7 linked regions of the Homo sapiens genome follow. The protein of the gene in region 2 purifies or fractionates together with the protein of the main gene of each other region. This does not show direct contact. Each region holds a gene or a part of one and is shown on either strand. Other genes may lie near its edges.

Region 1 (4,133 bases), on a different chromosome or scaffold from region 2:
CCAGCCTGGGCGACAGAGCGAGACTCCGTCTCAAAAAATAAAAAATAAAAAAAAAAAGAATATTTGACCTTTACAACTATTTAAAATGGACTAGTCCTGGACCACAGGGATTCATGGCCTGAGTATGGAAGCAATTAACAGCAGCAAACTGAAGCCAACAATAAATTTAAACTCTCAAGTTTTGGGCACCAAATAATGCTAGTTTCCTGTGTCTAAGACCTTACCCAAGAAGAGGCACTTGTGAAAAGATGCATCAGTTTTAAAAGCCATTTTATTTATTTATTTATTTATTGAGAGAGTTTCACTCGTCACCCAGGCTGAAGTGCAATGGCGCGATCTTGGCTCACTGCAACCTCTGCCTCCCTGGTTCAAGCAGTTCTCCTGCCTCAGCTTCCCAAGTAGCTGGGATTACAGGTGTGTGCCACCATGCCCAGCTAATTTTTGTATTTTTAGTAGAGAGGGGTAGAGAGGGGATTTCATCATGTTGGCCAGGCTGGTCTTGAACTCCTGACCTCAGGTGATCTGCCCATCTCAGCCTCCCAAAGTGCTGGGATTACAGGCGTGAGCCACCGCACCCAGCCTAAAAGCCATTTGTAAAGAAGTAATATTTAAGACTTTTTTCAAGAGCTGGGGGGAGTGTTCACATGCCCACGAAGGTTCTTTGCCAGAATTACGCACCCACACATGCACCCAGTAGAAGGGCTTTGCTGGGAGTGCTGATTCTGCTCATTCTGGAGCTTATATTTCCTCAGTTCCAGAACTACTTCTTATAAAAGTTATAAATCACAACATTTAAATAAGATCCCAAAGTGCTACTGCCTTCTTAGAAATTCAGCTATAGTCATTATATTAATAAATCTTTGTATAGGTGAGAGATGGGTTTTGGTCTGTTCACCCTCAATCCTGTTCTTTCCTGACTTTAAGTCGATTCATTCACCACTCACTCACTCACCAGCATTTACTGTATAGCTACTACAGGGCAAGCCCTGGGCTAGGGAGTCAAAGAGAAATGACGACTGAAGTACGGTCCTGGCCCTGGAGCAGTGTAGTCACATTCTACAATGTACAGTTGGATTAATGCTAATTACTTACTCAGACTTCGCAAAAGGAAACAACCAGAGAAACAGTCTTTTTCCCATGATCGTAAACACTCCCTATCTGGTGGACTTGCTGTTCTTCCTTCTATATTCAAAAACAACCAATGCCTCTTTTACTTTTAACTTTATTTGGCAAAGCAGCACTGCATAAACTGTTCAAGAACTAGGACACAGCTTACACAGCATGTTAAGTTCATATACATTATCAGCAGCAAATTAGAAACAGAAAACCACACTAAACTACAAGTCTCCTATAATTTTGAGAGAGAGAGAAGGGAAGAACTAAGTCAGTTATGTCCAATCTGAACAGCTGAGTGTTTACAGGACATCACCTGCCATCTTATGGTTTAATATTTACAAATGCCTAGTTTTAAGGTAACAAAGCAGCTGATTGTATCTACAACATGCTATTCTATGACACCACATCAAAAGCTTTAAAAAGAAAGCTCATCTCTATTTTCTTAGTAGCATCTAACAGATATCCAAATACCAAGAATCTTAACTTGTGAATGGTGGTGTTATCCAATGCACAAAAGCAATCTGATAAATTAATATCAGAACAGAATTAAGTGTCCAAGAAAAGAAAAACCACTCCTCAAAATCAATTCACAAACTAAGTTTTCCATTTTACAGAACCCTTTCTTTTAATATTTCCAAGTAAAATATGGGCATGTTAAAGTAATATTACACAAATTTATACTTTGCATCCTTCCTCTACCAATTTGGCTCTGTGCCTCTTTGAAGAATCAGAAACCCTAAAAAAACACACATTTTCATGCTGAAAATAACAGTGTAACAAAGTCCAAAACAAGCTGTGATGGTGTTGGTTTTCAAAAAGCTTTGAGGACTGAGATGAGCAATCCACTGTAATTTTATACTGGTCAAGCTGATGTTGCTTTTACAATTCATCCCTGTGAGGAAAAAAGAGAGAAATACATTAGTAGGAGTTACACACTACCCAATTTGGCTTTATAATAGTTTAGACACAACTATTAAGTCAATAAAAATGCGCTGATCACCAAGCAATATATTTAAAAAATAAAAATGCAAACAACCCAAGTGAAAGCAACAGAGGGTCAGCCATTCCAAACATCTTCCATGCCACTCCAGAACCAAGTATGCAACCTAAAGGGCGTGAGTTCTTCATTTTTGATTTCTAAAAATAGATTTCTTCCTTCAATGTCAAAATTCAGAAAAAATATCTTTTAGATCTACGGTCATCTTTACACTATAGTAAAATGACAACTTAAGTGTTTTAGAGTTCAAATGAGTTGATAGTTACATTCACAAAATTGGACAGAAATGTGGTCTTTTGCTCAGAATGTCCACTAGCAATTGTGGAGTGGGTCAATCTCAACCCAAGCGCTCTGAGAGAAAAGGCATCATCTGTAGGTATAATATACCTGTCAGCTGATTTCATAAGGCAGCTTTATCAGCTCCAAAAGAAACCATTCACTCAGCCAGGTGCAGCACTGTACCAGCAACTGCCAGTGAGAGGAAGGAAGGAATAAAAATGCAGTCTAAAATAAACTGTATGGTATCTCAGTTATACCTCAGTAAAACTGTTAAAAGTGAAAAAATGAATAAAACCACGAGAGAAGCCCACAAGCCTCATAGCTGAAGGTAATGTGAGTGACAAAAACAAGAACTTTAGGGGTAAAGAAGCATGATATTGATAATTAAGTCTCAAGTGGTTTAAGAAAAAGGAAAAAAATTACATATATGTATATATAGAAAGAGGGGAAAGAAATGTAGAAAAATGATAATAATTGATGACTCTGGATGAAGAGATTTAGGAGTTATTTGTACTATCCTAGCAACTTGTTGGCAATAAAAATTAAAGTTAAAAGTTTTGAAAAAGTTGTTAAGATAAATTTGAAGGGAAGAAGAAATAAAGAGCTCATAATTTCACAAGTAAGTGGGGGTAAATTACTGGACAATTTTTTTAAACTAAATTTTGTAAATTGTGCAAGAAAATATTTTTAAAATCATTTCTCCAATAAGCTGCCTTTATCCTATAGTATTGGATTATCTATTAAATGACAAATCATAAGTCTGCTTCCTCTTAATATATTCTTCCAAATAACAATGTTATAATTCTCATAGAACAGCTTTTACTTAACTCATGCAGGCATTAAAATATTTGGTCAACAAAGAATTATTTGCAAAGTGCTCTATTCATAAAGTAAAATTCACTTCTGCTTTTTAGAATATGAACTGAAGATATTGTTTTTCTTGTTTTGGCTTTTTTTTTTTTTTTTTTTTTTTGAGACAGAGTCTCGCTCTGTCACCTAGGCTGGAGTGCAGTGGTGTGATCATGGCTCACTGCAACCTCTGCCTCCCAGGTTCCAGCAATTCTCCTGCCTCAGCCTCCCGAGTCGCTGGGATTACAGGCAGGCACCACCATACCCGGCTAAATTTTTTTTGTATTATTAGTAGAGACAGGGTTTCACCACGTTGCTCAGGCTGGTCTCGAACTCCTGACCTCAAGTGATCTGCCCACCTCAGCCTCCCAAAGTGCTGGGATTACAGGTGTGAGCCACCATGCCCAAGCCAAAGATATTGTTATTTTTAAATAATTTACTACAATTTGCCAGGGGCAGTGGCTCACACCTGTAATCCCAGCACTTTGGGAGGCCAAGGCGGGCGGATCATGAGGTCAGGAGATCGAGACCATCCTGGCTAACATGGTGAAACCTCGTCTCTACTAAAAATACAAATAATTAGCCGGGTGTGGTGGCATGCACCTGTAATCCTAGCTATTCGGGAGGCTGAGGCAGGAGAATCGCTTAAACCAGGGAGGCGGAGGTTGCAGCAAGCTGAGATCACGCCACTGCACTCCAGCCTGAGCGACAGAGCGAGACTCCATCTCAGAAAACAATAATAATAATAATAATTTACTACAATTTACCTGCTGCAAGACATTAAGTATACTGTAAATAAATTAATGCCCCCTCAACAACATAGGTACCATTTTTCCAACTATCCTCTCTGTCTAAAAAATACTTTAAAAAAGGAAAAGAAATTAGGTTTATA
Region 2 (4,454 bases):
TAATTCCCTTGCCCAGATCACGGAAGGTGATACACAGCGTATTTGGAAGTAGATGTGTGTGCATGTGTGTGCACATGTATGCATGTGTATGTGTGCATGTGTGCGCATGTATGTGTGGGTGAATGTGTGTATGTGCGCACGTGTGAATGTGTGCACATGTATGCATGTGTGTGCATGTGTGAATGTGGGTGCGTACACGTGTGCACCCATGTGCGTGTATGTGTGTGTGCACATGTGTGAATGTGTGCATGTGTGCACGTGTGCGTGTGTGAATGTGTGTGGATGTATGTGTGTGCACATGTGTGAATGTGCATGTGTGCATCTGTGCGTGTGTGGGTGCGTGTGTGTGCACATGTATGCATGTGCATGAATGTGTGTGCGTGTGTGCATGTGTGTGCATGTGAATGTGTGTGGGTGTATGTGTGTGCACATGTGTGAATGTGTGCATGTGTGCATGTGAGTGGGGTGTGTGTGCACATGTGTGTGTGAACGTGCATGCATTGTACGGTTGTGTGCGTGTGTGTGCATGTGTGTGCCTGTGTGTGGGTGTACGTGTGCATGTGCATGCATGTGTGTGGGAGTATGTGCATGTGCGTGCCTGTGTGTGGGTAGGTGTACGTGTGTGTGCCTGTGTGTGGGTGTGTGTGCATGTGTATGCCTGTGTGTGGGTGTATGTGCATGTGTGCATGTGTGTGCCTGTGTGTGGGAGTATGTGTGTGCGTGTGCATGTGAGTGCCTGTGTGCGCCTGTGTGCACATTTCTGGGAGAGATGCCAGCAGGGGATAGGATAAGAATAATCAGCTCATCCTTTTCCTTTTTTGCTGTGGCTTCTTGGAACCTCAGACACTTATTTTGTGACCTAATTATGCCAATGACTGTATCTTTAAATCCTGACAAAATGGTCTTCTGTCTTTTCTCTATGGTTTTAAACTTTCTTCTATATCTTGATTTCATCTGCTTTGCATACACATATTTTTACTGATCTCTCTCTTAAACCTTTTGGGGTGGTGGAACTAGCAGAACCCAAGTGTGGAAAATAACGAGGAGGTTTCAGACAGAATTCGGAAAGTGTTAGAAAAAAACCCCACCTCCCAGTCAGTGTGTGAAATGTCACTGTGCTACTGAGGGAGGACCTCACCCCCAGGCCCCTCCAATGACTGGTCTTCCTCCTGGAGAGGCCCAGAGGAGTCACTAGGAATTAGGAGCCCCCAGCACTGCCTGCAGACCCTTGTGCACCGGCCTCTGGTGTCTTGGCCCTCTTGCATGTCTGCCTATCACAGCCTGGCCACTGCACCCTCTCAGCCAGGGCTGCGACAGTGCCGGGCTGGGAGCAAAGCACTTCATAAATGCAGAAGGATGTTAACTCTGGGCATGATGCTCTCTGAAAATGATCTTTCTGGAAGGGCAGCAACTAGAGATGCTTACTGGCTGTATGCAGAACTTCCGGATGGTGTAGTCGACCAAAACCACGCAGTCCTCCACGCACACCCGGATGTTTCCATAGGTCCAGCAGCCTTGGTCGGGCCAGTACTGATGGCACTTTTCCTGCACGGAACAATTTAATAGAAGCAAATAGATCTGTGGGTGCAATGCATCATGACATCCCCCCACCCAACTACAGAAGGCCTCACACACACCAGCTGGAGTCACACAGCTCCCACAGCTGAGAAACAAGTTCACGTGTGTCGACCTCTTGAATGGGGAAACTGAGGCTGCGTAACTGGTGAACAGCAGCCTTGAAACTATGACTAGGATGCCCCAAGGCTTTCTGATGTAGACAGCAACAATGTCTCATTTCTTCATTCATTCACGAATCCCATACATTTTATTAACTGACCATCAACCAGTTATGCTGAGCCTGTAGCCTTCAGAGCTGGGCACCTAACTCCAAGTGACCCTCAGGCTAGAGGGCAAGGACGGTGCTCCCCCCAGACATTTCCCACTGGATTCAGCAATTTGTGTTTTTCCTGCTCAGTTCACTAAGGACAAAGTTAATTTGCACCACTGCCAGTCTGCCATTCAAGAGTGATGAACCTATGATTGGTCTAACGATCTTCATTTTTCTCTAGCAGGGACGAGGCTGCCGTGGAGTCTGCAGAAGAGGGTGCATTGCTACAGACAGGCCCATTTCTTTACCTTCCCGACCTCTGAAGCAAGAATGACCCAAAATACACGTTCCAGGAGCCCTTTCATTTTGCAGCACCGCCCGCAGCACCTGCCCGGTGGTGTCCTCCATCACTTCGCGAGTGAATGAGGACCCACCTCAAGGGGGAAAAGATCTACTTCATCTGCCAGAGAAACATGTCTGGAATGGAACAAGCCTGCCAGTAGTCAGAGAGTATATCCAGGGAATGGCCCCTGAGCAGCACAGCTCGTGGTCAAGCCTCCAGGATTAACAGTCTTATGAAACAAACAGCATCTGGTATTTAGTAGAGAGCAGCATCATTGTGTTATGACGGCTACCGACAACTTCCCCCTCCTTACACCTGGCTCCGGGCGGGGCTGCGGGGCTGTGGGTCACAGGCCATCTCTGATGCAGCCCAGGGGAATTGCAAATGCCTACATGTCCCGGTTTGGGTGAGTCTTGGCCCTATGGGGAGCCCTGGGGTCCCTCCTGAGCTTCTCACCTTGAAGGCTCTCCAGTAGGAACTGAGAACATGTGTCAGCCTCTCAAGGGCTCAGTGTTGGTGGCTGGTTTTATACCCCCTCCCTCTGCCTCCCTCCCACCCGATCATGAGATGCCAGGGCAGCTGTGTTTTGCAATGCAGAGCCCAGGATGTGGAAGCCAAGGAAACCACAACAGAAGTGTGAGCAATTAAGAAAAAGGGAACTCTATTGAGAAATGATTTCATCTGAATTGGTGAGAATGAGGACGCGGCAGCAGCCCAGCACTGAGTCACAGGAGTGGAAAAATCCAGTAGGAGGTTGTGGGGGAAGATGGAGAGAAAATGCCAGTGACACTTTCAGCAGAATGACTGAAAGAGGGAAGTGAGGGCGTCCTTGAGCCCCACTGCTTCTGTGCTGGTCTCATGCTTGGAGCACCAACCCCAGGAAGACTGGTCCCTATGGGCCATGGGTCACGGGGGACCCTGAGGCTCCTGATGAAGGGTCAGCCTCCTTTTCCCTCGCGTGGGTGTCCTCCTCCATGGCCGCTACAGCGCAGGCAGAGTGAAGAGTCCTGGGCTGGGAATCCCCTACTTCCCTCTGTCACTCTTCCCTCTTCCCCATGACAAAGCATGACAAGGGCAAGATTTGCAAGGGCAAAGGGGTGGCCCTCCACAGTCCTGTTTCAGCTCCCCCCAGAGCAGAATGAAAGCCTCCATCCTATTCCTGACCAGAAACGGTGGCTGGAGGCTGCTTCCTGTGTTTTGGGTGGCAATTAGTAAGCTGGCACTGCGGGGACCAGAGCACCTCCCAGCCTGCCCTTCCTGTGGGCTCCTGCCACCCATCTTCTGCCCCAGCTGAGCTCCCCAAGGCCTGGTACTCCCATCTAAAAATGGCAGCCCTTCCCCACAGTCCTCGCTACAATGCCTGGGAACTGCTGGGGCCAGGCCAGCAGATGACTGAGGAGCTCAGGACACAGCAGGCCCTGAGCAGGGCCGGGCAGGACACACGGCTCCCACTGAACCGGGCCTTCATGCCAGAACACGCCAGAAGCACAGCCTCCTAACTTCGCCCCACCTGTGGTAAGTGTCCCTCAGGCTCCCAGTTCTTCTTTCATTCTGGAGAGTGAGCTCACTGCCTATGGCATGGCTCCCTGCCTGTCACTCAACCCCACCCCCGCACCCAGGCTCCCCACAGCCACCACTTCTCAGCCCTGAATTTGAGCCCCTACTCCTTGCACCTGGGACAGAGCTGGCCCAGCACAGCAGATGCTAATGAGTACTTGTTACATTAGGAAACGAATCAGTTCAACTTTTCTTCTTTGTCAATGATTCAAATTCTTATAACGTACATGCATCCTTTTTTGAATTAGAAACAGCTAATTAAATATATTCGGATGACAAATCAACATTTCTTCAATATACCAACGTTTTCCAAAAGCATTTCTCTAGTCTGGATAATAAGCGCGAAATCATGTTCATTTCTAGCCTGAGCTCTGCCGCATGACACGCTCAACATCCTAAAACTCTAAGATTCATGTCTCTCATCAGGCAGGCAGAGCCATGGGGCCAGCCGGGGGCCACTCTTACTTGGGAAAAAAAGGAAACTCTTGTGTCATTGTGTTATCACAGATTAGATAACAGTGAGATGCTGGGGACACAGGGGATTTGTTTCGTGAAGAAAATGCTGTAAGCCACTGCATGTGTTTGGGTTTTTTTCTGCAGTGATAGTGGGAGGAAGGGAGGGAAGTAGGAAAAGGAAGTGGTAAGAACATCCCCAGCCCGGCAGCAGCAGCTGAAAGGAAGTGATACCGGGGCCAGATGCCTGGAACTCACCTCTTTCCTTTCTTT
Region 3 (5,050 bases), on a different chromosome or scaffold from region 2:
ATACCTTAGATCTACTAGAACAGTACCTAGTATTGTTGGATAAATGAAGTGGTGAAGAAAACCAGAGGTAAGAAAGGAGAAGAGAGGGAGAAGAAAGAAAGAAGAAAAGAAGAAAATCATTTGACTTTCCCCAAGTAATCGAAGCAGTTTATTTTTAAAATCAGATATAGTTCAGTAGTTACTGAACCATGGGCCAGGCACAATGGCTCATGACTGCAATCCCAGCACTACTTGGAGGCTAAGGCAGAAGGATTTTTGTGGTCAAAAGTTCAAGACCAGCATGGGCAACATAGCAAGACCAAGTCTCCACCAAAAACAATTTAAATTAAATTAACCAAGAGTGATAACACATGTCTGTAGTCCCAGCTAAACATGAGGCTGAGGTTGTAGGACCACTTGAGCCCAGGAGTTCCAGGCATCTGTGAACTATGATCTCACCAATGCACTCAAGACTGTGCTATGCAGCAAGACCCCATCTCTGGAAAAATAAAATAGTTACTGAACCCTATGTAACTTTTTTCCACTCAGAATGTAAAGAGATTGTGTTTGTTTTACACATGAGAAGAAACTTTGTATCTATAATGCTTATAAATCTCATGACAAAAGAATAAGAATAATATCTATCTAATTTAATTTGAATTATTTATTTGCCTTAAGAAATGATTTATATTTTCTTGTATATTACCCAGAGAGTAATCATAATTTCCAGTAAGGCTGTTCCAATACAGCATAAAAATTTACCTAATAAATACTTCCTTAAAAAATCTGATACAAAATTAAACCACAAATTATCTTTACTGGTTAAAGCCTAAGGATAACTAATGCATTCAAGAGACAAATATGTGGTTGTTTTTTTTTTTATGTTTTTGTGGAGATACGGGTCTCACTATGTTGCCTAGGCTATTCTTGAACTTCTATGCTCAAGCAATCCTCCTGCCTCGGCCTCCCAAAGTGCTGGGATTACAGACATGAGCCACTGAGACCAGCCTTGTTTCAAACTTCACAGTACCCAAAGAATCACCTGGAGATAATGTTAAAATGCAAACGCCTTAGGACAACCCCAAGATTCTGACTCAGCAAGTTTGCGAAGGTGGACTAAGAATTTACATTTCCACAGGCTCCAGCTGATGCTGTCTGTGATGTTCCCATATGGCACACTCTGAGGAACAATGCACTAGGCTGTATAACTTACCTCAACTTTATATATAAGTTTTTGATATTCGTTTCTTAGTACATTGAGTTATCCAACCAGCAGTGAGTAGGGTAATTTTTACACAAATTTTCCTAGGAATGTAATGAAAACATTTTTTCCTTCACTCTAGTGTAATCATGTCAACACATGGCTGCTATGGAAAAATATGTAGCCTTAAAAACTCCAGGAAATTAAATTGAATTTCCAAATACATATATTCAGTCATATGTGAGATATGTATCAGTGAGCACTTAGAGTCATTTCACCATAAATATAATAATTTTTTATCATATAGTACCCAAAAGATTACTGAATTTGGCAAATGTTTACGTTCACTTTGTAACTTAAAATATTCTAAAGTCAATAGAAGATGGTAAAAGTATGAGATAAATAATGATTTGAAGAAAAACTCTTGAAGTATATGAAGACTGTAATTTTATTATGCCAGTTACCACGAGTTATCAGAGAACATGTAAAATCTTGATAACATGGTAAGTATTATTTGTGTCATAGAGTTGTTCCACCTTGGACACATACTTGTGGAAACATCTTTATCACTGCAATTATTTCTATGCCTGGTTTCCTCCAGCATGCTTTTCTGTCATCTGACTCACTCAGCGCTAGACTAACAGTGGGATTAACATGCAGTGGGTACAGTTGTTTCCTGGTTACTTTGTCTTCACAATCATCTATTGCAAAATCACTTTGTTACGGTTATTTTTATCATTTGTAGAGACAGATTTTGGGCATTACTTTTAGTTTCCATAATGTGATCTCATAATTGCCATTATTTAACAAAAACAAATGGGGGACTTCAGAGTGTTTAAATACATTGGCCCTCTAGGGTAGCACATCATCTCTTGAAGCTTCACTTCAACTTCACTACTTCTGTAGTCTCATCTTGAGTAAAAGGTAATATGTTCATGTATAATCGAATATGTTGTCTTAATCTAGAGTGTTGCTTCCTAAAATCTTTTGAAAACTAATTATAAAAATGTGTATTTATGTAATGATAATTTCTCATAAAGAAACAATTGAGAGAAATGATGACCTTCTTAGGATCTGAAGGTAAGTTGAGAATCTGAATAACTATACATTGAAATCAGCAATCATCATGCAAAGTAAATAATGTGGAATATGGAGACATATTCCAACTTCTCTCCTGATGGAACTTCTGAAAAGCTTTTTATTTCCTTGTCTACGTACTGGCATCTACTCTGCTACTTACTACTTTTACCTTTATTCGAAGTTCATATTTTAAGAAAATAGCATACGTTCTCTTTTTTGCAAATGTATATATTGTTTCACAAGTTTAACTTTTAAAAATTTACTTTTTTCCCATAAGTAAACATTTCTCACTACCTTTTCATTGACCTTTCCATCATTTTAAACAGTTATGTCATTCTGCATAATAAAAAATGTTGTATAACAGTCATGCTTTACTGCCTTACTGTTTTATATTACTTAAGTTGTTTTCATTCAGTTGTGATATGGCAGAAAACAAAGATTTTACTATTTCATATTTTTATTATTTTTCATTGGGGAAATATTTTTTTAAAACCATGACATATATATTTATATATCTATGTCTATATATCCATCTTTCAGTTTATCAAGGTTAGTAAAACAAAACTACTCTTCTATGAGCATTTTTTGATTCCATACTTTCAATAAAATTTACAGGTATAAAATACACTAAAGTTTTTATGCTTTTTGCATCATAAAATGACTGATGGGTAGGTTTATCTATCAGGTGATAGAAAAACCCCAAAGTACATATTATTTTTACACTTACTCTAATACCAGAAATTTCCTTTTTTTTTTTTTTTTTTTTTTAATTTGAGACAGAGTTTCGCTCTTGTTGCCCAGGCTGGAGTGCAATGGTGCAATCTCGGCTCACCGCAACCTCCACCTCCCGGGCTCAAGTGATTCTCCTGCCTCAGCTTCCTAAGTAGCTGGGATTATAGGCACTCACCACCATGCCCAGCTAAATTTTTATTATTATTATTTTTAGTAGAGACGGGGTTTCTCCATGTTGGTCAGGCTGGTCTTGAACTCCTGACCACAGGTGATCTGCCCACCTTGGCCTTCCAAAGTGCTGTGATTACAGGCATGAGCCACCACACCCGGCCAGAAATTTCAGTTTGAATAACTGAGGCAAATCAGTGAATAAGTAACAAAGCAAATGCCATAAATCATGAGTTCTGCTTTATGTTTTGGAGATTTGGGGTTATTAATAACAGTAATTTTTTTTATAATTAGGTAAAAAATATTCTTGTAATGTTTTATCACAAGTTATTGGTAAAAGAGATTAAAATAATGAAGACCATTACCTTTATATGAATTACTCTATAGTTTTCAATAAACAGGTAAAAATGTCATTTATTTGTAACTCTTGTGGCAATTATGTGTTTCACTGAAAATGTCTTTATTTAGATGTTTATAATTTACAAATAAATAATCTAACGTTTTTTGTTTAATAACAAAGGAACTGGGTTAACTGGCTTATACTGTTTATGATAACATATCACAGTCCCAGATAAGGTTAATTTTGTTGAATGAGATTATTTAAAATATTAAGTCATCTTCACCAATTCAACTTCTCAGAGGAGGTACGAATATTTTCTCTGTGACTTCTTATCAGTTTGATTGTTCTCTACCCAGTATCATTAATGTTCTAATCTGAAGGTGACCCCATTTTTGCAACTCTCAAGACAGAAATCTGGCTCATTTTCAGTAACATTATAAAGCGATTGCCCATTGCTGGTCATTCTAACATCCAAACATCTCTTTACACTGTACCTTAAATATCATCCCTAATGTCATTATTTAAGGCGCCCCATAATATCCAGTTCTATCTTCCCTACATTTTGAACTGTTCCAGTTTTATCTTCTGATAAACTGCTCCAGTTTTATCTTCCCTACATTTTGAACTGTTTGCACTTTCAATATGGTATCCTCCCTCTTTTTCATTTTCTTGCAGTCACCCAACACCTCTTTACTCATCCTGCATAATCCAACTCAAGCTTTACTTTCTTCTTTACCTTCATACCCCTATTCTCTTGGTCTGTGTAAGGTGTTGATTTGTGTGTTACTCTAATGCCTTAGCATTTCCATATCAATACACTCACTTTTACTTATCAGTGTCTCCAACAAGTCTCCAAGTTTCATGATGTCAGGCAATGGGTTTTAATTGTCTTTCTATCTGGAGTGTGTCTCCCAGTGCTTTGGAGCGTAGTATAATCAATAAACTTTTGATGGGCGAATGCAAGAAAAAATGTGATACTGAATTTCCACATATGTTTTCAGAGAACCCAGCCAACTATGAAGTTCCTTGTCTTTGCCTTCATCTTGGCTCTCATGGTTTCCATGATTGTAAGTATATCAGGACATTTGAAGAATATGTTCTCAGTACCTATCCCAAGAGTCTCTCTATTCCTTGTGTTCTGGCATATATTGGTGTTTACTTGAATACAGCTTTATATGTTTAAATGTTTCCATATGAACTTTTTTTTGTACTAACCTACATAAGCTATATAAGGATTTAGAATAAATAGTCATTATTCATCTACAGACACTAAAGTATATTTAGCTTAGTGTGAAATAAAAGAAAGTTTTACTGAACTTCTTAAATATGTGGAACTGAGAGCTTCTAAAAGTATCTTTAAACATGTAATGCTCTAGACAATCTGAAGTTAGAAATCTCAGGAATGAACTAGGTGCACTTGAGTGGAATTCAAGTATTAGAAGATGTCAAAGTAGAAATTTTCAAGTCATTCCTTGCAAAAACTAACTTAAAATTAGTATACAATTATTTAGCACACACTTTCTAAAATAAAGCTGCTTATTTTTAACTAT
Region 4 (4,454 bases), on a different chromosome or scaffold from region 2:
AAGCTCGATTTTAAAAGCTAGTTTTGCTTTGGTTTCTCTACGCATATTAAAATTAAAAGGCAACAAATTTTCTCTTCACTGAAACAGTTCAGTCATATGGTACCTGTATTCTCTAACAACGTCTTTGGTGTGTTGGGTCTGTTAATGATTTCTACAAGCTGGTGCAACACCATAGGAATATAAGGCTGCATCTCTATACCTAGAGATCATCCCAAAAAGAAAAAAACAAAAAAGAAAAAATTGAACGTTAAAATATCAATGTGAAATATTTTGCTTCCCGTATTAACTCTGACATGTCATATAAATATAGAAATACAAATAATTAAAATTAAAGCAATTACAAAAATATCAAGGCACCTAAAAATTTATATTTTATTTATTTATTTTGAGACAAAGTTTCGCTCCGTCACCAGGCTGGAGTGCAGTGGTGCAATCTCAGCTCACTGAAACCTCTGCCTCCCAGGTTCAAGTGATTCTCCTGACTCAGCCTCCCAAATAGTTGGGATTATAGGCACCCGCTACCACGCCAGCTAATTTTTGTATTTTTAGTAGAGACGGGGTTTCACCATGTCAACCAGGCTGGTCTCAAACTCCTGACCTCAGGTGATCTGCCCGCCTCAGCCTCCCGAAGTGCTGGGATTACAGGCGTGAGCCACCGCGCCAGGCCTTATGCTTTTAAATAGGGAAAAACATCTTACCCATTTGAATGGAGATTTCTCCAATTGCCCATGTGGCATTGTTGCAGACTGAAATGAATTCTGGATTTAGGTTGGTTCCCAATATTGGCATGAAATCAGCTAGAAAAAAAATTTAAACTATGTAGTAAACTTTTCAATAGCAGTATATTGTACTTTAAAGGAAATCTACTAGGTGGAAACAGAAATCTAAGCAAGAAATAACAAGTTTCACCATTAAAAAAATTACTGCAACATCAATTTTAAAATTGGTGGAAATAAACTAGGCAACTGTATTTAAAAATATTTTTTAAAGGAGTTGGTAATGTTTATCTTAAGAAACTGAAGAAAACAGTATCTGGCCAATGAACTTTCAAATAATGTGGAACAGGAAATACAAGTTTGGGTATATTTTACATACCACTAAAAAGAGTTGGTCAGAGTAATCTCTTGTAATTAGACTAAAAAAAAAAAATCAATGATTTTGGCTTTTAAAGCAATTTTCACTCTTGTGCTCTGATTGTGGTCTCTGAATAACATTTTCCACTAAAAAAAAATGGACTCTCAGAAAACGTCACATTACAGGCAAAGGCAGGAAATGTGCAAAATAAGTGGACTATCTTGTCATAATGAAAGGACTCGGGAGCCAACTTAAGTTCTCACTGCAAGCAGTACAACAGCTTGAACATCATGAAGTCACACTAGCACTAAAAACAATCAAACAAAAACAAAACTCTGAAACATCAAAGATACCTTTGGAGGATGATAGGAATCAATTCATTATTTTGAAAATTGGTAAATAAAAAAAAGAATCAAGTATTTATCTTGCCTCTGCTATATGATTTTACCTCAGGATAGTAATTTATTGATATGGGAAATGTCTCCCTATATAAGTATCTTCATTATTAAATGAAGAATTAGAATATCATAATTTTTTAAACTCCTAATAAATCAGGAGATGTAAGCCAGGGTTTCTTGATCTCAGCAATATTGACAGTTTGGGCCAGATCATTTTTTTGTTGGGGGGAAGGGGAGCTGTCTCCTGTATTATAAGATGTTTAGCAACATCCTTTGCTTCTACCCACTAGACATCAATGGCACCTCTCCAGCATCAAACAAAATGTCTCCAGACACTGGCAAATGTTCCCCGAATGGCAAAATTGCCCCTAGTTGAGAACCACTAATTGAGACAATCATCAAGATTGGTAACATTAAAAAAAAAAAAAGGAGGGACAACTAGACACTATGTACACTAAGTACACAATACCATCTATAAAGTCTTAAAAACAAAACAACGTAAATCTCATTAAACCTCAGTCTCTGTATCCAAACAATTTACAGTAAATACAACGGACAGAGGAACATGTTAAAGACAACAAAGATGCAATCAGTAAAATCCACAGTAAAGGAAACTCTTTAGAATAAAAAACATGGTTTCTTTAACAAAAAACAATTGTAAGAAGAGATAGTATAGTATGTACTAAAATATTAAGACTTCAAATGCTGTGTTTGAGATTTGCTCCAAAATATCTGAGATCTATGTGTCTCACCACTGACAACAGTATATAGGAAACAGGACTGGACAGTTGAAGCTGGGTGATAGGAGGTTTGTTACATTTTTTCTACTTTTGTACGTCTTAAACACTTTATAATAAAAAAATTAAATCCTTTCATATAAGTTTCAACTAAAAAACTAAATTAGGTGGTAAATATGAGAATGATAAGCTTCCCATAAGAATTCATTACACTGTTAGGTTTAAACTTGATGGTTCTTAATATATCATAATTAATGTTAATTATGTTAGTTTTTTGAGAAATGGTTATCCAAAAGCACAATTATATCAGATGACAAAACATTCAATTAATATTTTAAATTAAGGTTTAAATGAAGTATTAAAATAATTTTTTTTGAGACGGAGTCTTGCTCTGTTGCCCAGGCTGGAGTGTAGTGGTACAGTATCAGCTCACTGCAGACTCTGCCTCCCGGGTTCAAGCGATTTTCCTGCCTCAGTTTCCCAAGTAGCTAGAACTACAGGCACAAGCCACCACGCCTGGCTAAGTTTTTGTATTTTTAGTAGAAGCGGGGTTTCACCGTGTTAGCCAGGATGGTCTTGATCTCCTGACTTCGTGACCTGCCCGCCTTGGCCTTCCAAAGTGCTGGCATTACAGGTCTGAGCCGCCGTGCCCGGCTGTATTAAAATAATTGTTACCCAACATGCTGAGATGCAGAAAAGGGGGAAAAAAATCCCATAACTCATTTATAACCCATAGGTTTAAGAACAATTCCGGGTACAACATTCAAGGAATTTCTTATCATTGTCACAGAAGGCCAAGACAAATGCTATGCTAGTCTCGAATCTCGCACTCCTGACCTCAAGTGATCTGCCTGCCTTGGCTTCCCAAAGTGCTGGCATTACAGGTGTGAGCCCCCAGGCCCAGTCTCAGTTAAAGTGACATTTGTTGGAAGTTTTCTGCAATATCTGAAAAAGTATGCTGGTTTGCTAGAGAAGAAAACCTGATTATTACTATTTCTGTGTACCTCTACCAAAAAGGTGGCTACTCAAAAAAGAATCTATTAACTAGTCCATGGTACCAAGGCTTCCCTGGTGGGCATGTCCTTTACTCTAAAGTATATTACTAAGCTTTCCTCCAGTCACAGGAGTACCTAAAAAGCTGAGATGATGGCAAGCTCAAGGAAATATTAGGGGTTCCTGCCATCTTGCCTGTTTCAATCACAGCAAGTTTACTTTAACCAATAAAGTGTACATTTATAAATGTTGGGATTCCATGCAATTTCAGTTTAATAATAAAAAAACAAAGCTGATGTAAATGTTAACTTTAAAAAACCATATTCATAGCAGTAGAAAATATTCATACCTATACAAGGCTTAACATGCTGAAAGCAAGCTTTTGTGAGGTCACCTAACAGGGCAAAAGAACTCTGTCGAACTTCTGGCATTTTATCCTACAAGAAATAAGAAGAAATTAACCCCAATGTGACACAGAGAAACAGGCTTCAATTCATTTTCACCTTTCAAGTCTCACCTGCATGCACTGATACATTAGTGTCAGGATGTTACTTCGGGCTACCAGCTGTTCAATGTTGCCTCCAAGTCCTTCAGCCAGGCCACTCAGTAAATCAAGAGCCACTATCATAAAATCTTTATCTGGAGCTTCATATTGATCTGGTTGAGCATTGTTTAGCTGAAATTAGACACAATGTTTTTTGTAAGTTTGGTTTTAATTAACTACTTAAAAAGTCTGTATACATTATACCTATCTTTAGAAAAATGTCCACCATGTCAAGAAGAGGAAGACATTTTAAAAAAATTACCATGGCTTGTGCAAGAGTCTTCTGTACTAGGTTTACACAACGCTGATACACAGGTTCACAGTACGGAAGGAATCCAGACTGCAGTGCTGTGGCAACTGAAGATAGGCACTAGGAAGAATAAAGTACACATGCTAAACTTTCTGGGTATACTGAAGATTATGATGAATGCTTGAAACTGCGCTCAACAGGATCCTGATCATTTATGAGCTTGCTCTACTAGTTTCTACAGTAGCAGGTTCCCCTCCCCCCACCCCAACCCTCTCTTTTGGAAGCCATTCATTGTTGTTAGTTTGCCAGCCAATCAGGTCAGGTTTACTCAGAGGAAGCGTTTCTACAAGAAACATTATCTTTAAAGGACAGATTGAGTATTATGTGTTCATATTTTTCCCTCAAATTGAAGAGATTCATTTCATGCTCCCATCCTGGTCAATGTTGTGAATGGACTT
Region 5 (4,454 bases), on a different chromosome or scaffold from region 2:
GGATTACAGGCATGAGCCACCACGCCTGGCCAAGTGTTTAAATTTTTTTTTTTTTTTTTTGAGACGGAGTTTCGCTCTTGTTGCCCAGGCTGGAGTGCAATGGCGCGACCTCGGCTCACCGCAACCTCCACCTCCCGGGTTCAAGCAATTCTCCTGCCTCAGCCTCCCGAGTAGCTGGGATTACAGGCATGCCTACCACGCCTGGCTAATTTTGTATTTGCAGTAGAGATGGGGTTTCTCCACGTTGGTCAGGCTGGTCTCGAACTCTAAACCTCAGGTGATCCACCCGCCTCAGCCTCCCAAAGTGCTGGGATTACAGGTGTGAGCCACTGCGCCCGGCTTAGGTGTTTACATTTTTAACAGAACTTTCTACTATCTAACCATCACCATGAGCTAAAGTTATTGCAAACTGAAAGTAGTCTTCAACTGTACTTTTTTTTGTTTTTTTGAGACAGACTTTTGCTCTTGTCACCCAGGCTGCAGTGCAATGGCGTGATGTCGGCTCACTGCAACCTCTGCCTCCTGGGTTCAAGGACTTGCCTGCCCCAGCCTCCCAAGTAGCTGGGATTACAAGCATGCGCCACCATGTCTGGCTGTGTTCTCTAGTTTTTTTTGTTTCTGTTTTTTTGGAGATGGAGTCTCGTTCTGTTGCCCAGGATGGAGAACAGTAGTGCAATCTCAACTCACTGCAACCTCCGCCTCCTAGGTTCAAGCAATTTTCCTGCCTCAGCCTCCTGAGTAGCTGGGAATATAGGCATGTGCCACCATGCCTGGCTAGTTTTTTGTATTTTAGTAGAGACAGAGTTTGGTCATGTTGCCCAGGCTGGTCTCAAACTCCCGAGCTCAGGCAATCCACCCACCGTGGCCTCCCAAAGTGCTGGAATTACAGGCATGAGCCACCACACCTGGCCCAATTATACTTAAAAATAAACAAACTGGGGCTGGGTGTGGTGGCTCACGCCTGTAATCTCAGCAGTTTGGGAGGCCGAGGCGGGCGGGTCATGAGGTCAGGAGATTGATACCATCCTGGCTAACACAGTGAAACCCTGTCTCTACTAAAAATACAAAAAATTAGCCAGGTGTAGTGGCAGGTGCCTGTAGTCCCAGCTACTTGGGAGGCTGAGGCAGGAGAATGGCATGAACCCGGGAGGTAGAGCTTGCAGTGAGCTGACATCGCATCACTGCACTACAGCCTGGGCGACAGAGCAAGACGCCATCTCAAACAAACAAACAAACAAACAAAAAAAAACGAAAAAAGCCAACTGTAGCCAAAGCCAAAATTAAGTTATCTTGAATTAAATCCCTCAGATTAGAGTTAATTCCTATCACCTGCAACAACTATACCTTTTATATCATCTTAAATGATAAAATTTAATGATATAAAATTAAACGATATAAAATTTTAAACCTATAAAAGTCACTAATTAAAGAGGAGTTACAGTTAATTAACATACCATGGGCTGCTCTTCTTTGATCAGCCAGAGTTGCTATGTCCTGTAACTGTTTTCTTTGTTCTTCATTAAGACCGTGAGTCAGTGCCTGATACCACACAGGATTACGATTTTGAATAGCTATCAAAAAATAAAAACAAGGGAAAAACAACATGAATAAGAGAGGCTTGGTAGCTCCGTTCTACACTATTCCTCCTACTCCATCCCGAGGCAATACTGAAATTCTGATCTATTTTATATTCTCCCAATAATTTTTAAAATTACCATATTTGTGAAACAACAGATATAGGAATAAAAATTAACTACAGCTTATCTTTATGGCTCCAAAAACTCTAATCATTCTTACGATCCATCTCTCCAGCAAATAAGGACTCAGCCTAACTAGTTCTTATATAGTAAGTAACAAACCAGGGAGACTTCAGGAATAAAGCTAACCCAACCATCTTAAAAGATTCAGAGCTAAAGCAACTTGAAAATCATCAAGGCTACTGTGGTACATGGGCCCCGTGTTAGGAACCATTCTTTAGGGACTGACATGTGGTGTCTGTCTACAAAGTACAAGGCACAGAAACAACAAGTTTGGCACCTCAATCAGTTCTTGCTGCCATGTAGCTCAGAAACCAGCACTTTGTGCTTCTGTAACCTTGCATCAAAACTGCCTTGTCATGGGCTTAGAAGACTCAAATCCTTGGTTATCAGATAATGTATTCTATCAAAAAATATATTCATCAGTTCCCAGTGCATAGGAAATGATATATAACAGCAATTAACTCTGAGAGGAAAAGATGTTTCAAATACAGGGGAAATTTAATTTCTTAACGTGGATGGTAAAACACAAATGCTATACCTTGTTGAAATCCAAGTAAATGATGGTAAAAACCAACCAGAACCTAGTATTCTGGAGCCACATACAATGACACATTATAGGAACAGTGGACTTTTCTTGGAATATTTAACAGTGTACGTGGCTCCAGAATCCTAGGCATATATAATTCAAAAATCTCAAGGTTAAATTAGTTGTTTAAAGCTAAAAATTTGATTATGCCGAAAGTGCTAATTTAGTAATAATAGATTAAATTAGTTAACACATCACAGAATATAGGAAAAAAAGAATTATAAGATCATATGCCATAAATGCTAATATACTCTTAACACGTTAAGTATAGGTTTGGGCAGGAAAAAAGGATACACACAAATAATAACATACAACAAACAGGTATACACGTAAGAGTGGTTACTTCTGAGGAAAGCTGGGAGATTGGGAATCAGAAGTAGCAAAGAGGCACTGTCACTGTATACTTTTTTGAACTACATTATTTTCCTATAATCTTCCAAAATTACAATCTAAATGTAAAATAACAGGATGAATAAAGAATACTCAGAAACTATGGCAACCTTAGAAATAATTTTGGTTACTTTGCCTAACCAGCCTTTTCTAGTCTGGGTTTGATATCCTCCAAACTCTTCCTTTAAAGGGCAGGCAGAAACTACAACAGATTTGTTCAATGAAATGGATCCACATGTAACAAGTTGACTTACTTTGAAAGATAGCTTTAAATATCTGATACTCATCAACAGGGTTATCTTCATCATCAATGATTGTGGAATAGCCTTCCAGAGCAGTCTCTTCAGCATCATCTTCTTCCCAATCTTCATCATCTCCATCTTCACCAGCCTGCTTAGCCAGAATCTCCAAATATTCTTGCCCATCTTCATCAATATCATCTTCATCACTCCCCAGTTCCTCTGCCAAGTCATAATATAAGTACTTTTATAACAATGACATATTTTGTTACTCAACAAATTGACAATCATCTCAATCACTGTCAGTAAATTACAAGTCACAAGTGACAAGAGAGAGCTCCAGGAATTGGTGTTTAAATACATGTTCAATAATGAATAGAAATGAAAATTTCCATAGGAGTCCAAGAAAACCAACCTTGATTTAATGTGTTCTTAATACTAGACATCTGAAAAAGAACTGCGCAGTATGAACACACTACCGTTACACCCACCAAACCTTTTGTAAGATTTTTTTTAAAAGGCTGGCTAAGTTAGTAAATGATAAAAGACAAAAATAGCAATAGCTATCTTATGTTGAAACCCTTATAATAATTTCTCTTAATATTTTATCAATTTATACACTGATAGTGTACAGTCTTATAGATAAAATGTATTTATCAACATTTAATTAACATAATGTTATAGTGCAAGTATGCTTAGGTTTTAGAATTAATAGATGATAGGATGGATGTCTCCAATAAATTTAGTCAACATTAAGACCATAAATCTTTAGAAGCTTAAAAATAAAATGAAAACCCCATAATTCGCCGGGCGCGGTGGCTCACGCCTGTAATCCCAACACTTTAGGAGGCCAAGGCAGGCAGATCATGAGGTCAGGAGATTGAGACCACCCTGGCCAACACGGTGAAACCCCATCTCTACTAAAAATACAAAAATTAGCCGGTGTGGTGGCACACGCCTGTAATCCCAGCTACTTGGGAGGCTGAGGCAGGAGAATCGCTTGAACCCGGGAGTCGGAGGTTGCAGTGAGCCAAGATTGCCATTGCACTCCAGCTTGGCGACAGAACGAGATTCCGTCTCAACAACAACAACAAAAAAAAACAAACAAAAAAAACCCCCATAAATCTTGTAATAGTAACTATAATGATATGTGTACCTTTGTTAATACTGTTAATTCAGTGCCATCTGCCAAGCACTATTTAAGCGTCAAGGATTCCCTCATGTAATCCCCACAACTTTTTTTAAAGAAATGGGGTTTCACGGCTCAGTGCAGTGGCTCACGCCTGTAATCCCAGCACTTTGGGAGGCCCAGGAGGGTGGATCATCTGAGGTCAGGAGTTCCAGACCAGCCTGGCCAACATGGTGAAATCCTGTCTCTACTAAAAATACAAAAATAAGCTGGGCATGGTGGCACGTGCCTATAATCCCAGCTATCTGGGGGGCTGAGGCAGGAGAATTGCTTGAACCCGGGAGGCAGAT
Region 6 (4,454 bases), on a different chromosome or scaffold from region 2:
CAGAGGACCTCACTTAGAAGGTGGCATTTGAGTAAAGACATATTGGATGAGAGGAATAGAGCCATGCAGACATCTAGGGGAAGGAAGGTTCCAGGCAGAGGACACAGTAAGCTCAAAGGCCTTGCCTATGGGAGTAAGCCTTGTGGGAAGGGTGCCTTAACATGGATCATGAACTGCTCACCAGATGACATGGAGAGAAGACGCAGGATATGGTGCAGATGCAGGTTCCTGGAGCTGGTGGAAGTTATCTTTGGGCTGACATTAAAAAACCCAGTCACCAGCTGAGCGGGAGAGCAGTCAGCATGGTTGCATGCTTTCCTCCAGCCATTGTCAGCTGTGTGGAGACAAGCACAGCCTGACAGAGAGGCAGATTGAGCCAGGGCTGTGGTTCAGCCAAAGGAGTTGGAAGAAATGCAAAAGAGCTTTGGGCTTGGAAATGTATGGAATGACTGACCCTGGGTTGAAGACAGGTAATTAGAGAAATGGAGACTTGAGGGGGTTAGAGATAGTGGAGAGGCAGGAGGATCAATGGATTGAAAGGTAGTGAGGTTGCAGGGCTGTAAGATCAGTACATTAGCAGAAGAGATTCGGACAGGAGGTGGTAGTTGGAGAAAGATGTTTGAATGTGTGATTGTGGATCAGCTGCCAGCATTTTAGGGTATGAGAATCAGCAGCTAAGATGAGGAGGAGAACAAGATCATTGAAAAAGAGGAGGCTGAGGCACCAAGGACCAGGTCCCAAAAGGATCGTCAATGTGGATCCTGCAGTTACCAGGAATTATGACAAGAATAATGCTGCAGAGAGTGACAGGGAGGAAGGAGCTCAGCTATTCAAATGAGAGGGAGTAACCAGGGGTTGGTAGGCAGACACAGTTGGAAGTGGTCAGAGGCCCTGTCTGAGGACAGGAGAGTCAAAGCTCAATGCTTTAGGAGGAGGCAGGGAACATGATCTGAAAGTCACATGATGAGCAAGGAAGACACCTACTCCACCTATGAACCAAGTGATACAGACAAGCTAAGAGAGAGAACAGCCCCCACTCAAGAGGACCACAGGGACTGCAGCATCAGGGGAGAGCCAGGTTTCTGGCAAAGCAAGAAGATGAAGAGAAGAAAATAGTCACAGAAGAGGTTGAAGACATGGAGGGGGGTTGTTGATGATGATATTAAGTTGTAAGGAGTTCTTACAAAAGAATTCAAAGAAATGAAGTCAGCACATGTTAAAAACAATCTATCAAGTACAAATTTAGGTCTCTTATCAGATAAGGTATTATTATTCTAATTTTATGGGTGAGAAAACTGAGACACATGAGTTTAAGCAACTTGCCGAGGACACCTCACTAATAATGTCAGAGATGAGATGATTAGGCCACGACTCCTGAGCCTGCACACTCAACCACGCACACACTGGCTCCCAGCAGTCAGCCTGCAATGCTTCCTACTTGCCAATTCCTTCTGGCCATGCTTCAATGCTTGAGAAAATAGACTAATTATTATATTCATATTCTTTTTTTTTTTTTTTGAGATGGAGTCTCGCACTGTCACTCAGGCTGGAGTGCAGTGGTGAGATCTCAGCTCACTGCAACTTCTGCCTCCCGGATTCAAGCAATTCTCCTGCCTCAGCCTCCCGAGTACCTGAGATTAAAGGCGCCTGCCACCACGCCCAGCTAATTTTTTTTTGTGTGTGTGTATTTTTAATAGAGACGGGGTTTCACCATGTTGATCAGGCTGGTCTCGAACTCCTGACCTTGTGATCTGCCCACCTCGGCCTCCTAAAGTGCTGGGATTACAGGTGTAAGCCACCGCCCCCGGCCTGTATTCATATTCTTTTTCAAACATGAAAGAACTTATTCAAGTTCCTATTGCCATGGGGCTAGAGGCCAAGAATGAAAAGGGTTATCACCATAGAAGGCGGTGTGGGTGGAGGTGGTAGTAAGTATTCTCTACCAATGCTACCATTGCTCAGGGCCCCACATCTGGTTGTGCAGCTCCATGCGATGCCTGTGGCTAAGGGGTGCAAAGGGACAGGGAACCAGCCAAAGTTCTGCTCGCTGAGCTGGAGAGCCTGGCTCAGGGCTGCATCTGGAGAAGTGGCCACCTCTTATCCTCACACAATGGAGGCATCTGCCTGCCCCGTCCTGAACCCACAGGACTGCATCACCACAGAGGAGGTGTCTTTTTCTTTTTTTTTTTCTTTGTTTTTTTTTTTTTTGAGATGGAGTCTCGCTCTGTCACCCAGGCTGGAGTGCAGTGGCGCGATCTTGGCTCACTGCAAGCTCCGCCTCCTGGGTTCACGCCATTCTCCTGCCTCAGCCTCCCGAGTAGCTGGGACTACAGGCGCCCGCCACTACGCCCGGCTAACTTTTTTGTATTTTTAGTAGAGACGGGGTTTCACCGTGGTCTCGATCTCCTGACCTCGTGATCCGCCCGCCTCGGCCTCCCAAAGTGCTGGGATTACAGGCGTGAGCCACTGCGCCCGGCCGAGGTGTCTTTTTCTAATTTGTTCACCCAGATGGGGCACCATAGGCCAGGGTCATTCTGAATGCACACATCATTTTTGGAACTCATTGTTAGAAATTATCTTCAACACCAGTGGGAATATAAAGTCAACCTTGAAGAATAACTTTGCTTTTAGAAAGAGTTAAAAGTCATTTGTTGGCCAGGCATGGTGGCTCACAGCTGTAATCCCAGCACTTTGGAAGGCCGAGGCGGGCGGATCACTTGAGGTCCGGAGTTTGAGACCAGCCCAGCCAACACGGTGAAAACCCGTCTCTACTAAAAATAAGAAAAATTAGCCATTCGTGGTGGCGAGTGCCTGTAATCCCAGCTACTCGGGAGGCTGAGGCAGGAGAATGGCTTGAACCTGGGAGGTGGAGGTTGCAGTGAGCTGAGATCTTGCCACTGCACTCCAGCCTGGGCAAGAGAGCGAGACTCCGTCTCAAAAAAAAAAAAAAAAAAAAGAAAAAGTCAGTTGTTGTCAAAAAATAACATGGGTGGTCAAGACCTGTGAAACTAAGAACTTTGTGATTCAGAAAATCATCATGGAAAGGGAGGTAATACTGGACAGAGGATCAGTCATTTCACATCTTGCAGAATATCTAAGACGATCCAGGATTTTTACAGAATGCCTGAAAATTACCATAGGATAAATACTGTGGTGGAAATGGGGGAAGCAATTCCAGTCCTCAGCCTGCCACAATCTATTTGTGTATCCTTCGGCAATTCATTGCTATCCCCTGGGGCTCGGCATCCTCTCCACTCACCAGTAAATGTGTGTGTGTGTGTGTGTGTGTGTGTGTGTGTGTGTGTGTGTGTGTGTGTGTGTGTGCATGTAAATGCATAGGGACAGTAGATGACCTATCTCCAGAGTACTCTCCAGCTCTGAGTTACTACTCTTTGATTAATTAAATCATTTTAAAGGATCAGAGCGTCAAACAGGCTTTATCATTTTAGGCTTGAGATTCTGACATTTATATTCCCCTGGGTTTCAGGATTTGTTGGAGTCTTCCTTTGCAGTCACTGAAACACATTTCAACCACAAGTTGTTTACTGTCCTAAGTATCATTTTATCTATTTTCCTTGAAAAAGCAAAGGTCTTGTTTTAATTCATCACTCAAGATACGGGACCAATGGTCAAAAAGACATTCCAAGCCTTCAAACGTTTTACCTGCTTGGGGTTCCGGTTTCTGACGTATCCGGTTTGGGAGAGATTCTCACCTCGTGGGTCATGTTCTCATTATCTCTGAATACACAACACACCTGAACTTTTCTACAGCTTCACTAATCCTGTAGGTGTTTAGCCTGCTGCATTATGTACCAGTCATCTTTCTGCTTTTTTTCTAAATATGGGCCTCTCAAATGCTCTTGCTCTTGACAATTGCTTTATCCTGTGTGCTTCTTTAAAAACATATCAAATGTTTCAATTGCAAATTGGTCTCATGCCACATAAAATTTGGTATTAATTCTAAATACTGAAGTTTCACTCCTTCGTCCCCTCTGTGACTACCACAGCAGAAAGCCTTGAAAATACTGTCATTGCAAGTGGAAGCATGATCCTACATGTGCCCCAGGAGACCCCTCTTCCTTTGTGTTTACAATTGCATAAGAAATTCTGAATCCACACTTTGCAGCCACATTTAGTGTCCTGACACAGAGAAAGGAGAGCCTGGTGGAGCTCTGTAGGATGGCTCAGGACTCCCTTTGCTCCATCCATTTGCACAGCTAGCTGCTATCAGAATTCACGGCAAGGGCGGTCACTGCCTTGGGGGATTTCTGATAGTGTCCCAACACCCTACTTGTAAAATGAAAAATAACTTTGTATTATCCTCTACCCTTTTCTCCAAGGTTGCATGTCTCCTATTTTGATCTGAACTGGCTGATCTGCAATGCCCTTAAGACTTAATATCAGATTTCTGCTTTAATAACAATAACGACATTAGATATACTGTTACAGAATAT
Region 7 (4,454 bases), on a different chromosome or scaffold from region 2:
TCACCATGTTGGCCAGGCTGGTCTCAAACTCCTGACCTCAAATGATCCACCCACCTCGGCCTCCCAAAGTGCTGGGATTACAAGTGTGAGCCACCATGCCCGGCCACCTGTTGCATCTTTAACAGCTGTGTTTGGAAAAGGGTGAGGAATTGATTCATCAATATTCAATACTAAGCTGCAAAATCAGGAATGCAGCCAATTGGTTTAATTGATCAAGACTTATAAACTCTTAAGGACTCTAGTGAACTGATACAAACTATTTCTTTGTGAAAAAAGGCTACAAAGTGAGAGACTTGAGTAAAAGCTGGAAAATTTACAACTCTGGAGAGAAGCACAACTGGGGAGACAGAAGCCTTTATAAGCCTTCTCTTATTCACAGTTGGTGTCTACACACAACAGGGTCCCACTGACCAGTACCGCTGCCTGCCTTAAAAAGCAGAAAGCTCACACTCACTCAAGTGCTCCAACTACTGAGTTTTCATCCTAGGAATACTCACAGCAACAATCTCTTGTTTCCTGGGATCAATGACTCTCACTTTCTTGTCTTTGGAAGCTGTGCAGATCAGACTGCCATTCCGGTTCCAGCTCACATTGTAAATCATGTCTGAATGCATATCGTCCAAGTTTATAAGGGCTTCCCCTGTTCCCACATTCCAGATGATAATGGCATTATCACAGCCTAAAACAGGCAAAACCATCAGAGATTAGAAGATTAGAAACACCTATGTAACACACTCAGAAAACTACAGATACAGTGAGAATACACATATGTATATGCAGAGAGAGAGAGAGAGAAAGAGAGAGAGAGAAAAGATGCGGCTGATTGTCAGAGGCCCTACCAGAGGCCCTACTTACTAACAGCGTTAAAAACTGAAGTGACAAAGGAAAAAGTTTGTATAAAAGAAATAAAAGTGTTAAAGTAAAAACACAACTTGTTAAGTTTGGGTTCATATGAAACAATCAACCAAACAAAAACAAAGAACCACACCAAAACAGAACCCTATTTTCTTTAAAGAGTTAACTGGGCTGGTAGACCCAAGTGACTTCAAGTTTCCCTTTCTAGTAAAACAAGCATCAGGGTGTTGCTGCCAGCTTTGGGAGACCCCTATTAGGCAAATACGCTCCTTCCTTTTAAAGAAAACTTTGATTTTCCCCTGCTATACAATTAGTACATGTATACTATAGAGAACATATATAAACAAAAGGAAAAAAAATCACTTTTAATCCCACCACTCAGAGAGAAGATCATTATTACTTTTTTGATGTTTCTTTCCGAAAGATATTTCTGTGCACATACATAAATTATTTTACATACAGAGATGGGTTCATACACTTTACACATGGGCTGCTTTCTGCACTTGGTGGTAGGCTGTGACCCTTTTCACGTGCCAAATAAACTAAAAGTAAAAGGTTTAAATGACTGTTTAGGGCACTCAACAAAAACTCTGGGTGGCAGGTTATTCAAATCAGTGAGACTCTAAGACACAGCTTTGGGATATTAAAGATGGTACAACAGTGGAAGGGAAAAGCCAAGAGTAAGGCCTGTTTGCTCACAACAGATCTGTACCTTTAAATGAAGAGAAAAATAGGCCAAGACTGCTCTGATCATGGTGAGAAGCCCAAACTGTAATCAAGTAGCTACATAGATTCAGAAACGGATTCTGAAAGAAGCCCACAATGTCAACTCATTCACCATCTCAGCTCACCAACTCCTTCCTTCCTTCAAGGGTCTGCCCCACGCCTCCAGGCCCCTTTAAAAAGAGGCAGCATGTGTTGCTCCTAGGATGTTAGTTCAAGGATGAAGCAAAATACGGGAAGGACATCCTAGAGGTGGATTCTTGCCAACAAAGCAATTTGGAAATCATTTAGAAAAAATAGTCACTAACATCCAGGATACTTAAGTTACCTAAGGGTTAGAAGTAGGAAACTGGCCGGGCACGGTGGCTCACGCCTGTAATCCCAGCACCCTGGGAGGCCGAGGCGGGCAGATCACCTGAGGTCAGGAGTTGGAGACCAGCCTGACCAACATGGAGAAACCCTGTCTCTACTAAAAATACAACATTAGCCAGGTGTGGTGGCACATGCCTGTAGTCCCAGCTACTTGGGAGGCTGAGGCAGGAGAATCGCTTGAACTCAGGAGGCGGAGGTTGCGGTGAGCTGAGATCATGCCATTGCACTCCAGCCTGAGCAACAAGAGCGAAACTCCATCTCAAAAAAAAAAAAAAAAAAAAAAGAAGTAGGAAACTGGAGAAAAAAACTACACAACAGTAACAAAAGTTGAAGCTAAACTCTGGGATGGACAATTGAACCTTCCTCTGCCTTCTTCCCTATAGGCAAACAGGTAACTTCAGCCCCGGCAGCTGGATCATATAGCCTAAAAATATGCAGAACACGACAATCACCCATTCTCCTTCACATGTAAAAGGGAGAATGCAGACCAGTCTGTTGCTGCTGCCCTGTATTGAGCCTTGATGAGAAAGGTAGCAGGGAATTTTCCATGAAGGAATTCCAGCTCTGGAATTTTTTTCCTCTCCTTAATCAGACTGAGGTTCTGAGAGAACATCAAAAATGATTCCCAAGTATAGTCGATGGTGATTATAAAAAACATGGCATCTTTTTTGAAAAGTGGGCCTTAGTTTCAATAGTTACTTGGCATTATAATTTTTTATTTAACTCACTATGAGTCATAAACATTGTGTATTCCCAGTTAAAAACTGAACTGCCCCTCCTCCTTTTTACTGGTGAGGGGAAAGACCTTTAAAAATCCTATCTCTAACATTAGTATCACTTTTTAAATAAACCACTTTTATTAAGGTATAACTTACATACAATACAATGCACCCATTTTAAGTATATATTTGCTAAGTTTCAACAAATGTATAAACTCATGTAGCCACTACTATGATCAAGATACAGAATATTTCCATCACCCCACAAAGTTCCCTCATGCTCTCTGTATTGCTTTCATAAAAGAAAATGAAATCTCCAATTTTAGATAAAGGAAAAGATTTCTGTACAACACCAGTGTCCAGAAATAGGGGACTTATCAAGTAAAATGAGGTATATCCAGAAAATGGATTAGTATGAAGTCATTAAAAATAGGAAGAGAGCTTAATGGCACGTGAAAAGGGTCACAGCCTACCACCAAGTGCAGAAAGCAGCCCATGTGTAAAGTGTATGAACCCATCTCTGTATGTAAAATAATTTATGTATGTGCACAGAAATATCTTTCGGAAAGAAACATCAAAAAAGTAATAATGATCTTCTCTCTGAGTGGTGGGATTAAAAGTGATTTTTTTTTCCTTTTGTTTATATATGTTCTCTACAGTATACATGTACTAATTGTATAGCAGGGGAAAATCAAAGTTTTCTTTAAAAGGAAGGAGTGTATTTGCCTAATAGGGGTCTCCCAAAGCTGGCAGCAACACCACAGAGGGAACACAGGGCTTCTGGCTCCCAACAAAGTACACCTTCTACCATATCAGAAATAACCAAAACTATGGTTCATGGAGGGCCCTGGCAGGAACCATGAAACCTGCTGAAATTATAGCAGGAAATTCATAGCTTTCCTCAGGTTGTCGAAATGGCCTTGAAACACACACACGTGCACACACACACAAGTATGTATGTGGGCTGGGGGAGCAGTGCACCCCAATACTCTTCACCATGGTTTCCTAATAATCTGCTTTAAAACCATATAGCACACAACCAAAACACATTTGCTTCCCCCCACTCAGAGAGCCACAAGAGTGGAAGACAAGGGGAGGACCGCTGAGCTCAGCTCCCACCTGCACTAAGAAGCACATTGCGGGCCGTTGGATGCCAAGCCACGATGCCGACTCTCTTTGAGTGGCCTTCCAAAATCACCACAGGTTCAGTCAGGGAAAGGGTGAGTCCATTTTCTGGGATCTGCCATACCTGTTGGACAAGGAAGAAAGATGATCCACATGAAAGCTATTGCCTTTCATTATCACATTTACAGTGACCATCCACTATAAAGATTTGCTCTATGTAAACAGAACATAGAGTGATATCTGGATGAAAGGCAGAATGTTGTGAAATGACCGTGTTAGGCGGTTTTTTTTTTGTTTGTTTTTTTGTTTTTTGTTTTTCGTTTTTGAGACGGAGTCTCACACTGTTACCCAAACTGGAGTGCAGTGGCGCGATCTCGGCTCACTGCAACCTCCATCTCCCAGGTTGAAGCAATTCTCCTGCCTCAGACTCCCAAGTATCGGCTGTTTTTAAAATGTAATATGTTATCGGAGATCAGGATACCAACAAGGACTACAAAACATTTCCTCTCAGCTTTTATTTAATATTATTTGGGATTTTATTCTAAATTCCTTGTTAAGTTCAAAACTCTCCAGTTAGAAGCATGCAAAAAATTGAAAGAAAACTACAAAATGATTGAAACACTCAAGAAAAGGAATGGGAATGAAGACACTTAGCTAAGT

What was found.
Region 1: the proteins of PTPRE (region 2) and PCMT1 purify together in Homo sapiens (affinity purification with mass spectrometry, with the first as the bait; one large-scale study listed by BioGRID). This does not show direct contact.
Region 3: the proteins of PTPRE (region 2) and STATH purify together in Homo sapiens (affinity purification with mass spectrometry; one large-scale study listed by BioGRID and IntAct). This does not show direct contact.
Region 4: the proteins of PTPRE (region 2) and TNPO1 purify together in Homo sapiens (affinity purification with mass spectrometry, with the first as the bait; one large-scale study listed by BioGRID). This does not show direct contact.
Region 5: the proteins of PTPRE (region 2) and IPO7 purify together in Homo sapiens (affinity purification with mass spectrometry, with the first as the bait; one large-scale study listed by BioGRID). This does not show direct contact.
Region 6: the proteins of PTPRE (region 2) and CPVL purify together in Homo sapiens (affinity purification with mass spectrometry; one large-scale study listed by BioGRID and IntAct). This does not show direct contact.
Region 7: the proteins of PTPRE (region 2) and CORO1C purify together in Homo sapiens (affinity purification with mass spectrometry, with the first as the bait; one large-scale study listed by BioGRID). This does not show direct contact.

Annotation. Positions count from the first base shown.
Region 1 is NC_000006.12:149,808,491-149,812,623, reverse strand, and holds the end of PCMT1 (protein-L-isoaspartate(D-aspartate) O-methyltransferase), read right to left. Parts: intron 2,009-4,133; coding exon of another isoform or gene 1,996-2,008; 3' UTR 1,205-1,995; downstream 1-1,204. UniProt on the Homo sapiens protein: Initiates the repair of damaged proteins by catalyzing methyl esterification of L-isoaspartyl and D-aspartyl residues produced by spontaneous isomerization and racemization of L-aspartyl and L-asparaginyl residues in aging peptides and proteins.
Region 2 is NC_000010.11:128,063,166-128,067,619, reverse strand, and holds part of PTPRE (receptor-type tyrosine-protein phosphatase epsilon isoform 1 precursor), read right to left. Parts: coding exon 4,440-4,454; intron 1,546-4,439; coding exon 1,426-1,545; intron 1-1,425. UniProt on the Homo sapiens protein: Isoform 1 plays a critical role in signaling transduction pathways and phosphoprotein network topology in red blood cells. May play a role in osteoclast formation and function.
Region 3 is NC_000004.12:69,993,922-69,998,971, forward strand, and holds the start of STATH (statherin isoform a precursor), read left to right. Parts: upstream 1-2,044; 5' UTR 2,045-2,104; intron 2,105-4,501; 5' UTR 4,502-4,516; coding exon 4,517-4,567; intron 4,568-5,050. UniProt on the Homo sapiens protein: Salivary protein that stabilizes saliva supersaturated with calcium salts by inhibiting the precipitation of calcium phosphate salts. It also modulates hydroxyapatite crystal formation on the tooth surface.
Region 4 is NC_000005.10:72,892,801-72,897,254, reverse strand, and holds part of TNPO1 (transportin-1), read right to left. Parts: intron 4,117-4,454; coding exon 4,009-4,116; intron 3,879-4,008; coding exon 3,720-3,878; intron 3,640-3,719; coding exon 3,552-3,639; intron 798-3,551; coding exon 699-797; intron 200-698; coding exon 104-199; intron 1-103. UniProt on the Homo sapiens protein: Functions in nuclear protein import as nuclear transport receptor. Serves as receptor for nuclear localization signals (NLS) in cargo substrates.
Region 5 is NC_000011.10:9,439,198-9,443,651, reverse strand, and holds part of IPO7 (importin-7), read right to left. Parts: intron 3,198-4,454; coding exon 2,991-3,197; intron 1,572-2,990; coding exon 1,455-1,571; intron 1-1,454. UniProt on the Homo sapiens protein: Functions in nuclear protein import, either by acting as autonomous nuclear transport receptor or as an adapter-like protein in association with the importin-beta subunit KPNB1.
Region 6 is NC_000007.14:29,066,505-29,070,958, forward strand, and holds part of CPVL (probable serine carboxypeptidase CPVL isoform b precursor), read right to left. Parts: intron 1-4,454. UniProt on the Homo sapiens protein: May be involved in the digestion of phagocytosed particles in the lysosome, participation in an inflammatory protease cascade, and trimming of peptides for antigen presentation.
Region 7 is NC_000012.12:108,658,241-108,662,694, forward strand, and holds part of CORO1C (coronin-1C), read right to left. Parts: intron 3,919-4,454; coding exon 3,789-3,918; intron 680-3,788; coding exon 498-679; intron 1-497. UniProt on the Homo sapiens protein: Plays a role in directed cell migration by regulating the activation and subcellular location of RAC1. Increases the presence of activated RAC1 at the leading edge of migrating cells.